Linked DNA regions of Homo sapiens: region 1 is linked to region 2. The links come from fine-mapping of genetic effects on gene expression. A gene starts in region 2. The other region holds a variant in brackets. All regions are shown on one strand. Distances are from middle to middle. Region 1 overlaps LOC124903913 (a long non-coding RNA gene). Region 2 holds the start of TMEM107 (transmembrane protein 107).

What was found. PIP is the estimated chance that this variant, and not a neighbour inherited with it, causes the effect.
Region 1: its variant is the best candidate, but not a certain one, in a credible set for the expression of TMEM107 in blood mononuclear cells (TOPMed, PIP 0.58).

What each region holds. Positions count from the first base shown.
Region 1 is chr17:8,194,583-8,199,802 of GRCh38, forward strand. It overlaps LOC124903913 (a long non-coding RNA gene), which reads right to left. Exons shown (of 2, transcript XR_007065604.1): 1 at 4,631-5,220. Among named protein-coding and RNA genes, the nearest start is that of BORCS6, 7.0 kb to the left of the region's middle. RefSeq lists an enhancer at 1,445-1,754. The variant T/G (reference allele first, on the strand shown) is at 3,324.
Region 2 is chr17:8,173,920-8,179,402 of GRCh38, forward strand. It overlaps TMEM107 (transmembrane protein 107), which reads right to left and starts at 2,461. Exons shown (of 5, transcript NM_183065.4): 1 at 2,281-2,461; 2 at 2,040-2,107; 3 at 1,838-1,938; 4 at 601-697; 5 at 1-353. The coding sequence starts at 2,367. The coding sequence ends at 284. LOC105371520 (a long non-coding RNA gene) reads left to right here and starts at 191. Exons shown (of 4, transcript NR_188261.1): 1 at 191-279; 2 at 857-955. RefSeq lists enhancers at 1,849-1,898, 1,949-2,008, 2,000-2,611, 2,039-2,088, 2,249-2,338 and 3 more.

The DNA of each region.
Region 1 (5,220 bases), 21 kb after region 2:
CGGGCGACAGAACATTTCATCTCAAAAAAAAAAAAAAAAATAGCTGGGCATGGTGATGTGTGCCCATAGTCCCAGCTACTCGGGAAGCTGAAGCACGAGAATTGCTTGAACCCAGGAGGCAGAGGTTGAAGTGAGCTAAGATCACACCACTGCACTCCAGCCTGGGCAACAGAATGAAACGCTGTCTCCAAAAAAAAAAAAAAAAAAAAAATTCAGAGTCTATAAATTTTTATTGGAACACAGCTATGTTCATTCACTTATGTATTGTCTTTTTTTTGTGTGTTGTATTGTTGTTGTTTTTTGAGACACAGTCTTGCTCTGTTGCCCGGGCTGGAGTGCAGTGGCACCATCTCAGCTCACTGCAACCTCCGCCTCCCGGGTTCAAGCGATTCTCTGCCTCAGCCTCCTGAGTATCTGGGACTACAGGCATATGCCACCACACCCGGCTAATTTTTTTATCTTTAGTAGAGACAGGGTTTCACCTTGTTGGCCAGGCTGGTCTCAAACTCCTGACCTAAGATGATCTGCCCAAAGTGCTAGCATTACAGGCATCAGCCACAGTGCCTGGCCTCCAACAGCATTTTATTTTATTTTGTTTTATTTATTTATTTATTTTGAGACGAAGTCTCACTCTGTCGCCCAGGCTGGAGTGCAGTGGCATGATCTCGGCTCACTGCAAGCTCTGCCTCCCGGGTTCATGCCATTCTCCTGCCTCAGCCTCCCCAGTAGCTGGGACTACAGGCGCCCGCCACCATGCCCGGCTAATTATTTGTATTTTTAGAAGAAACGGGGTTTCACCGTGTTAGCCAGGATGGTCTCGATCTCCTGACCTCGTGATCCACCTCGCCCCACCTGGCCCGCCTCAGCCTCCCAAAGTGCTGGGATTACAGGCGTGAGCCACTGCGCCCAGCCCCCAACAGCATTTTAAAATATTATTTTTAGAAAGTAAAAATTTCTATGTAAGGGCCAGGCACGGTGGCTCACATCTGTAATCCCAACACTTTGGGAAGCCGAGGCCGGTGGATCACCTGAGGTGAGGAGTTAGAGACCATTCTGGCCAACATGGTGAAACCCTGTCTCTACTAAAAATATAAAAATTAGCTGGGTGTGGTGGCGCATGCCTGTAATCCCAGCTACTCGGGAGGCTAAGGCAGGAGAATCACTTGAACCTGGGAGGTGGAGGTTGCAGTGAACGGAGATCATGCCATTGCACTCCAGCCTGGGCAACAAGAGTGAGACTCCATCTCAAAACAAACAAACGAAACAAAACAAAACAAAACAAGATGTCTATGTATATTAATGCAATTGGGAACAGCCCATGTTATACGTAAGAAATGACTGTTATTTCCATCTTAAAGACTCACAAAAGGCCAGGCGCAGTGGCTGGCTGGGTGCCGTGGCTCACGCCTGTAATCCCAGCACTTTGGGAGGCCGAGGCAGGTGGATCACTTGAGGTCAGGAGTTCAAGGCTGGTCTGGATAACATGGTGAAACCCTGTCTCTATTAGAATCGCTTCAACCCAGGAGGCGGAGGTTGCAGTGAGCTGAGACAGCGCCACCACACTCCAGCCTGGGTGACAGAGTCTGTCTCAAAAAAAAAGACTCACAAAAATACAAAAATAACTTGGCCAAGGTCACATGGCTAATAAGCAATGGTGAAGGAATTCAAAGTGAGACATGCTGACTCAAAGTGAAAGCTCGATCATCCACAGGTCTCACCCCTCCATAGGCCACAGTAGGGGTGGGGGTCAGATTACCCACCCTCAATGTTGCCAGTGCCCACATTACTTCACAGAAGTAGAGAGAAGTTATCTGCCGACCTATCAGGGGAACAAGCAAGGCTGGATATCTTTTCTGCTTTCTTTTTTTGGCATCATCCATTCAGTGGGAAGGTAAGGTGATCATCAAGTCCCAAAAATGAACAAATGCCCCAGTCAGCTATGCTCAGCATTTAGAAGAATGTCAACTAGGACAGTTTTCTCCCCATACCCCAGGGCATCAGCCCTTGTATTGTCTGTAGGGCTTGTTGAGTGGGATGGGGGTGGAATGCAGGTTTTATGTGGCATGTAGAATTATGCCATGGTTTTACATTACATTTGGGGATGGCTCTTGCTCTGGATACTTGGAATTTTCACGTGTGAGGAGATGATGTCTTTGTTTTCTTTTCTTTTTTTTTTTTGAGATGGAGTTTCCCTCTTGTTGCCCAGGCTGGAGTGCAATGGCCCAATCTTGCTTCACTGCAACCTCCACTCCCGGGGTTCAAGAGATTCTTCTGCTTCATTCTCCCAAGTAGCTGGGATTACATGCACCCGCCACCACGCCCGGCTAATTTTTTTTTTTTTTTTTTTTTTTTGTATTTTTAGTACAGATGGGATTTCACCATGTTGGCCAGGCTGGTCTTGAACCCCAGACCTCAGGTGATCCACCCGCCTCGGCCTCCCAAAGTGCTGGGATGACAGGCATGAGCTGCCGCGCCCAGCCGAGGTCAGAGCTTTAGTGATGGAAGTGGAAGAGCAGTTACAGAGGAGCATCCATTGGTGGGGAAGGACCAGAACTCTTAGGGAAGGGCTTCTGAACCCCTCAGAACCACCTGGGGAGTTAAAAGCGACATGGATGCTCCAGCCTCAACCCAGATCAATGAAATCTGAATTTGTTAGGGCAAGGCCTGGGAGTTTTTTGTTTTTTGGTTTTTTTTTTTTTGAGACGGAATCTCGCTCTGTCGCCCAGGCTAGAGTGCAGTGGCACGATCTCAGCTCACTGCAAGCTCCGCCTCCTGGGTTCATGCCACTCTCCTGCCCCAGCCTCCTGAGTAGCTGGGACTACAGGCACCCACCACCACGCCCAGGTAATTTTTTTTTGTATTTTTGGTAGAGACAGGGTTTCACCGTGTTAGCCAGGATGGTCTTGATCTCCTGACCTCGTGATCCGCCCGCCTCAGCCTCCCAAAGTGCTGGGATTACAGGCGTAAGCCACCGCGCCCGGTCTCCTATTTTCTTTTTAAGTCCTTCAGATGTTTCTAATGTGCAGCCATTGTTGATAACCCCTGAAGATAGGACCTTGCCAGCCATGATAAGGAGTTTTGATTTTATTGTAAATACACCGAAAAACCAAAGGAGGGTTTTGAACAGAGGAATGATATGCTCTGACTTTGACTGTTGGGGGAATGGACTCTAGGAGGCAGGAACAGAAGAAGCAGAGAGAATAGTTAGGAGGTTGTTATCACCCAAGCCAGAAAGGATGGTGACTTGAACCAGCATGAGAGTGATGGGGTGTGTGTGTAATAAAGGTGGGCCTCTCCATGGATTTGGTTGGCAATAGGAAGAG[T/G]TGGAAGATCTGGGGAGGTGAGGAAGAAAAAAGAGAGAAACCAGGAATGATTTCTAGGTTTTTGACCCAAGTAACTGGGTGCTAAATGATAGTGCTATTGACTGAGATGGGGAAGTTACAACTTTTTTGATTGGGTGGGCACTGAATTAAGAATACTATTTTAGGCCAGGCGTGGTTGCTCCCGCCTGTAATCCCTGCACTTTGGGAGGCCAAGGTCGGGGGATCACCTGAGGTCAGGAGTTCGAGATCAGCTTGGCCAACATGATGAAACCCCCGTCTCTACTAAAAATACAAAAAAAAAAAATTAGCTGGGCATGGTGGCGTGTGCCTGTAATCCCAGCTACTCAGGAGGCTGAGGGAGGAGAATCGCTTGAACCCGGGAGGCAGAGGTTGCAGTGAGCCGAGATCATGCCACAGCACTCCAGCCTGGGCAACAGAGCAAAACTCTGTCTAAAAAAAAAAAAAAGTACTATTTTAGGCATGCTTACTTTGAGAAGCCTATTAGATTGCCAAGAATGTGTTAGTCTCAAGCTTGATAGGGACGTCAAGGTGAGAAATACAAATGTGGGAGTCGTATTTAAAACCACGGGCTGGGCCGGGCACAGTGGCTCACGCCTGTAATTCCAGCACTTTGAGAGGCTGAGGCGGGTGGATCACCTGAGGTCAGGAGTTCAAGATCACCCTGGCCAACATGGTGAAACCCCTACTGAAAATATAAAAATTAGCTAGGCACAGTGGCACGCGCCTGTAATCCCAGCTACTCGGGAGGCTGAGGCAGGAGAATTGCTTGAACCCGGAGGGCGGAGGTTGCAGTGAGCTGAGACTGTGCGACCGCACTCCAGCTTGGGTGACAGAGCGACTCCATCTCAAAAATAAAATAAAAATAAAACCATGGGTTTGGCACAGTGGCTCAAGCCTATAATCCCAGCACTTTGGGAGGCCGAGGTGGGAGGATCGCTTGAGCCCAGGAGTTCAACACCAGCCTTGGCAACATAATAAGACCCCATCTCTACAAGAGAAAAAAAAATTACCCGGGTGTGGTGGTGTGCACCTGTGGTTCCAGCTGCTCCAGAGGCTGAGGCAGGAGGATTGCTTGAGCCCACAAGTTCAAGGCTGCAGTGAGCTGTGATCACACCACTGCACTTGAGCCTGGATGACAGAGTGAGACCCTGTCTCAAAAAAAAAAAAGAAAAAGAAAGAAAGTCGCAGCCAAAGATTTCATATTTGATACCCAGATTCTTGTGTTCCTGGAAACCAAAGTTTCCAGTATCTGAGAAGTTAAGAAAAAATAATTCATACTCCCATACCTTTGGACCTTTCTCCAGGATTTCTTCTGCCTTGGCCCCTGGAACTGTGCAGTCAACAGTAATCTTTTCATTTCTCCTGAAAACAAAAGATCTGACAGTGCATCTAGTTTTGGAAAACACAGGGGTCTGGCCTGTGAGTTGCTCCAACACCTTGGCTGCCTGTGTCAGTCTGTCGTCACTCTTCTCCACACAGATATTGAGGCAGAGCTTACAGATATAAAGTTGGCCTGAGCCAAACTCCCTGGCCTATTTTTTTTTTTTTTTTTGGATGCTAGATGTTTGCATGGTGATGAGACTTATCCAGCCAAAAAAAAAAAAAGGATATATAGATATAGATATAGATATAGATATGTGTGTGTATACACACACACATATATATATATATATAAATGGTAGAAAAGCGAAAGGGGACAATTACTGGAATGAAGTTGTTGAATAGTAGGAGGCCTGGGTTCAGAGTATATCTGGAGGGGCTCCCTGACAGGACTTGAGAAGGGGAAAGACAGATAATAGGTGAACAGAGGTAACTTGGGGCAATTGGTGATTGGAATGTACAAGACCCCTGTTTGGTTCTGCTGTTTCTCAGAGAA
Region 2 (5,483 bases):
CTAGAAAACAGCGTTGTTTTTTTTTTATTCAGTAGTTCAGCCATCTCAATTGTCCCCTAAAACTGTATATAAGTCTTAATGTTACTACAAAACATATTTTATTACAAAGCACTAAATACAATGCGGATAATCCCAGACTCAAGACGTAATTATTCCAACACATATCCTCCAGCAGAAGCAGTTTCCGAGGGGAAAACCGAAGCCTATGCCTTCCTTCTTCCAGGAATACGAAGCGGCCCTTGCCCCTGTAGGCTTCGTCCTTAGGTTCCCGTCATGAAGGTAATCAGAAGGGTTTCTTTTTCAGCCCAAAGACGGTGACGAATAAAGCCATTTCAGTGACAGCTGGAAGGGCACTACCAAGGCAAGTGGTAGATTCAGAAACCCTTTCAGTATAAATACCCAAATCTCCAAACCAGAGACCCCACCTCTGAAAGTGTAGGGCAGGTGGCATGGGGGGTAGGGGATGAAACTTTAAAAGCCTACAGGATGTTGAGTGGATCTGGTATCTCACACATGGAGGAAAGGGCTGGGTAGGGGAAAAACCTTCAGGTTTAGGGCCAACCTTCCTCCCTCATCCCCAAATATTGGATGCTACCACACCTGCAGAAGACAAAAATGTACCAATACGTAGTGCACTCCCAACGCTCGAATATGAAGAAGGACAGGGCCACGGATGCACTACAGTGAGCCCCAATGGCTTGGGAAGGCACGAGATTAAGGAAAGTCTTTGGATCGACAGACAGTGATGGGTCAGAAAAGGCCAGTGGTGGGGCTGGCATCTGCATTCAGGTTCATCCCTTGCTCCCTCACCATGTTTCAAGGGCTAGAGTCAGCAGCTCTGACTTCTGAATTTTAGGACAGTCATGTGAGGAGAGACCAGAAGTGACTGCACAGATCGGACCTCAGGCTACCCTACCCCTTATCTGTGGGCCAGCCTGGATCCTTCAGATGAGAGGTAAGAGTAGGCTCTCCTTCTGCTATGCCACAAAGGAGTGCTGACAGCGACTTAATATGCGCTGGAATCAGCCTCCAGTGTCCTGGTCCTCCTGGTCCACAATTCTCTGACCCATGTGCCTCATCTCCTTTGCCTCTTCTGAGTTCCCAGTGCTCGCTTCCGTTGCCTCTTCTGAGTTCCCATTGTGCTTTATATCTTTTGTTTGTTTTTTGACAGAGTCTTGCTCTGTTGCCCTGGCTGGAGTGCAGTGGCACGATCTCAGCTCACTGCAACCTCTGCCTCCCGGGTTCAAGCAATTCTCCTTCCTCAGTCTCCTGAGTAGCTGGGATTACAGGAGTGCGCCGCCACGCCCGACTAATTTTTGTATTTTTAGTAGAGACGGGGGTTTCACCATGTTGGTCAGGCCGGTCTCGAACTCCTGACCTCAGGTGGTCCACCTGCCTCGGCCTCCCAAAGTGCTGGGATTACATGCGTGAGCCATCGCGCCCTGCCTGTGCTTTCTATCTTCACACACTTCTATAGCACAGTGCTTATCACACTGAATTACAGATTTGTATCTACCTCCTCCTCATTGTAAAAAGAAACGGTGGGGTTTTTATTATTCCTATTATTTTTGTAGACTTGGGTTCTCACTATGTTGCCTCCTGCCTGCGCCTCCCACAGTGCTGGGATTACAGACGTGAGCCAACATGCCTGGCCAAAAACTGTATTTTACTCTCATTTTGGGATTTTAAGTGCCTAGTAAACAGCAGGATTTAGCACATCGTTGAAGATCTTTGAACTGGAAGGATTGGCTACAGCAGACACTATTGTGTCAGGTGGCTGAAGGGAGTCCTGATAGAAGTGGGTCGTGTGGGAAAGGTGGGCAGGCAGAAAGGATACAGATGAGGCTCTGGGTGCTGTTGAACATGGAGACTCCTGAGAGGAAACCGGCCAGCTCCACTGCAAAGAGGCCCAGGGTGACAGAGAGCGCGGCCACCAGCCTGCAGAGAGGAAGTGGACTGGCCCAGGCCTTTGGACTTATTCTAAGACCCCTCCACTCCCACCACCTCTTCGTTCTGGCCACCCCGTCCCAAGAGCTCACTGAATGTCCTGCTTGTCATACTCCTCGGGGGTGAACGTGAGAGGCAGGCAGGCCTGTATGTTGCTGTCCTGGGAGCAGGGCACAGGAAGAGAAGTGAAAAAGGGGCAGGCTGCAGGGCAGGCCTGGGGGCGGCGGGAAACAAGAAAACCCAAGAGGGTAAGACACTGGGAGGGGGCAGGGTAGGACTAGGACCACTCAGAGATGGGAATGGGGACGGATTGAGTGCAGCCGTGGGTCTTACCCGGGACCAGAATAAGGTGATGACGACCACCAGATGCGCCAGGAGCGTCAGGAAGCGAGAGGGCACAAGCCCTGAGACCCGGCCCATGGCCCTCGGGGACAAGGGCGGCGGTCTCTGAGGCTGGAAGTTCAGAGACAGCGACTCCTGAAGTCTCCCCGCAAGCCGACAAATCTAGACGAACGCCTCCTTCCCGCCCGCTCAGGCACCGCCCAGTTGCCTTGGTAACCGTGTACGCGGGCTCGGCGCCGCGTTCTCGGAAATCCTCGCGAGCAGTACATTCTCCGGCTGCTGCGGGTCTCTCAGGGCCAGCGAAGGTCAGGGGTACCCGAAGGCGCTTCTAACCTAACGGCTGGGTACCCGCGCGCAGCCAGGCCCTTTGTTCCTCAGAGGGTGCGAGGTGGCACAGCCCCGCAGCGCCCGATCTGCCCACGCAGGGCGGATGAACGGAAACCCACCCTGGCCTAGCTTGGGGACACCAATGCTTCTGCTGTTGCCCACGCCGGGAGCGGCCCCCAGCCCCAGCTACGCTGCCCAGTTGTGGATCACTTGAGACCGCTGCCACCACCACGCCGGGCTGAGTTCCCCGCCATGCCGAAGACTCAGACCCGCTCCCCTTCCCCTCCTCTGCATGCCTTTAGCTTCCCACCAAGCTGGGCCTGAGAAACAAGGGACCCGAACCTGGAGAGGCCGGTGTTCCTGGACTGCTCTGCAGTCACAGATTGTCACGGAGCCCCTGGTTGTCTGAGGACCCCAGGCCTGAACCTTCCTTGAGGAAGACTGATTTCTTTCAGACTACTTTGCTCAGTTTGGTGAGGGATTTGCAGAGTGCAAAAAATGGCCAGCGTCCTTAAACTAGCATGGGGATAAGAGCAGAGCAAGGTGGCTGGAAAGAGTGGGAGTGGACGAAGGGAATGGGACAGTCCCTGCGTCTCTGGGAGGCTTGGAGCCGGCTGGAAGGGAAACTCAACTCAGATTTCTTTGTCCCTTGGAGGTGCTGGGCCTCCGACATTGCCCAGCTACAGTCCAAGAAGCTCTTATCATCGGCGACCTCATGACCTTTGGGCCTCAGCGCAGGTCCCTGCAGATCTGAAAGTTCTTTAATTGCTGAGTCAAGTCCCATCCTCAAGGAACCTCCCGGCCCATCTCCCAGGAGAACAATCTCTTCCTACTCCCCACTCCCCATCTCAGTGCTTTTAGCCAGCCTAAACTACAAGCCCAAGAGGCATTTCTCATTCCTTCAACAAATATTTGTATATGTTTATTGATTACCTAGTAAGGGTATTCTAGTCAGGGAGATCAACAACAGACATGCAAACAAATAAATCCGTAAGATAATAGGCGCTACAAACAGGGAAAAGCGGGCTGTGCACTGTGGCTCACACCTGTAATCCCAGCGCTTTAGGAGGCCTAGGAGGGCGGATCACCTGAGGTCAGGAGCTCGAGACCAGACTGACCAACATGCTGAAACCCTGTCTCCACTAAAAATACAAAATTAGCCGGGCGTGGTGGCGCGTGCCTGTAATCCCAGCTATTCGGGAGGCTGAGGCATGGGAATCGCTTGAACCCAGGAGGTGGAGGTTGCAGTGAGCCGAGATCGCGCCATTGCACTCCAGCCTCTGCAACAAGAGCGCAACTCCGTCTCCAAAAAAAAAAGAAACGCTAGAATTATAATTCTATAAAAATAGGGCATTTATAATTCTATTAAAATAGAGCATTTATTTTGTTTTATTTTATTTATTTACTTTTTCTGAGACGGAGTCTCGCTCTGTCTCCCAGGCTGGAGTGCAGTGGCGCAATTTCGGCTCACTGCAAGCTCGGCCTCCCGGGTTCACGCCATTCTCCCGTCTCAGCCTCCTGAGTAGCTGGGACTACAGGCGCTCGCCACCATGCCCGGCTAATTTTTTGTGTTTTTAGGAGAGACGGAGTTTCACTGTGTTAGCCAGGATGGTCTCGATCTCCTGCCCTCGTGATCCGCCAGCCTCGGCCTTGCAAAGTGCTGGGATTACAGGCATGAGCCACCGCGCCCAGCCGGACATTTAACCTTAAACTTTATTTTAGAAACTTTGGCCAAAAATTGGCCGGGAGCGGTGGCTCAGGCATGTAATCCCAGCACTTTGGGAGACCGAGGCAGGGAGATCACCTGAGGTCAGGAGTTTCAGACCGGCCTGGCCAACATGGTGAAACCTCATCTCTACTGAAAAAAAAAAAAAAAAAAAAGTTAAAAAGTTAGCCAGGTGTGGTGGCGCCCGCCTCTAATCCCAGCTATTCCAGAGGCTGAGGGAGGAGAAGTGCTTGAACCCGGGAGGCAGAGGTTGCAGTGATCCAAGATCGTGCCACTGCACTCCCGCCTGGGAAACAGACCAAGACTTCGTCTCAAAAAAAAAGAAAAGAAATAAAAAGAAAATGCACTCTGGGACCAGAAGCAAAAGCCCATGCCTGTAATCCCAGCACTTTGGGAGGCCAAGGCGAAGTATTCCTTGAACCCAAGACTTTGAAGCCAGTCTGAGCAACATAGTGAGACACCTCTCTCTGTTAAAACAATAATAAAGGCCGGGAATGGTGGCTTACGCTTGTAATCCCAGAACTTTGGGAGGCCGAAGCGGGCGGATCCCCTGAGGTCAGGAGTTTGAGACCAGCCTGACAAACATGATGAAACCCCGTCTCTATTTAAAAATACAAAAAAAAAAAAAAAAAAAAAAATTAGCCGGGCATGGTGGCACACACCTGTATTCCCAGCTACTCGGGAGGCTGGGGCAGGAGAATCGCTTGAACCCGGGAGGCGGATGTTACAATGAGCCGAGATTGCGCCACTGCACTCCAGCCTGGACAACAGAGCAAGACTCCAACTCAAAAAAAAAAAAAAAAAAAATATATATATATATATATATATATACACACACACACACATATATACATACATAGATATCTTTTTAATAAAGTTTTAGGCCGGGCGCGGTGGCTCACGCCTGTAATCCCAGCACTTTGGGAAGCCGAGGCGGGTGGATCATCTGAGGTCAGGAGTTCAAGGCCAGCCTGGCCAACATGGAGAAACCCCGTCTCTACTAAAAATACAAAAATTAGCCAGGCATCGTGGCACGCTCCTGTAGTCCCAGCTACTCGGGAGGCTGAGGCAGGAGAATCTCTTGAACCCACGAGGTGGAGATTGCAGTGAGCTGAGATCACACCACTGCACTCCACTCTGG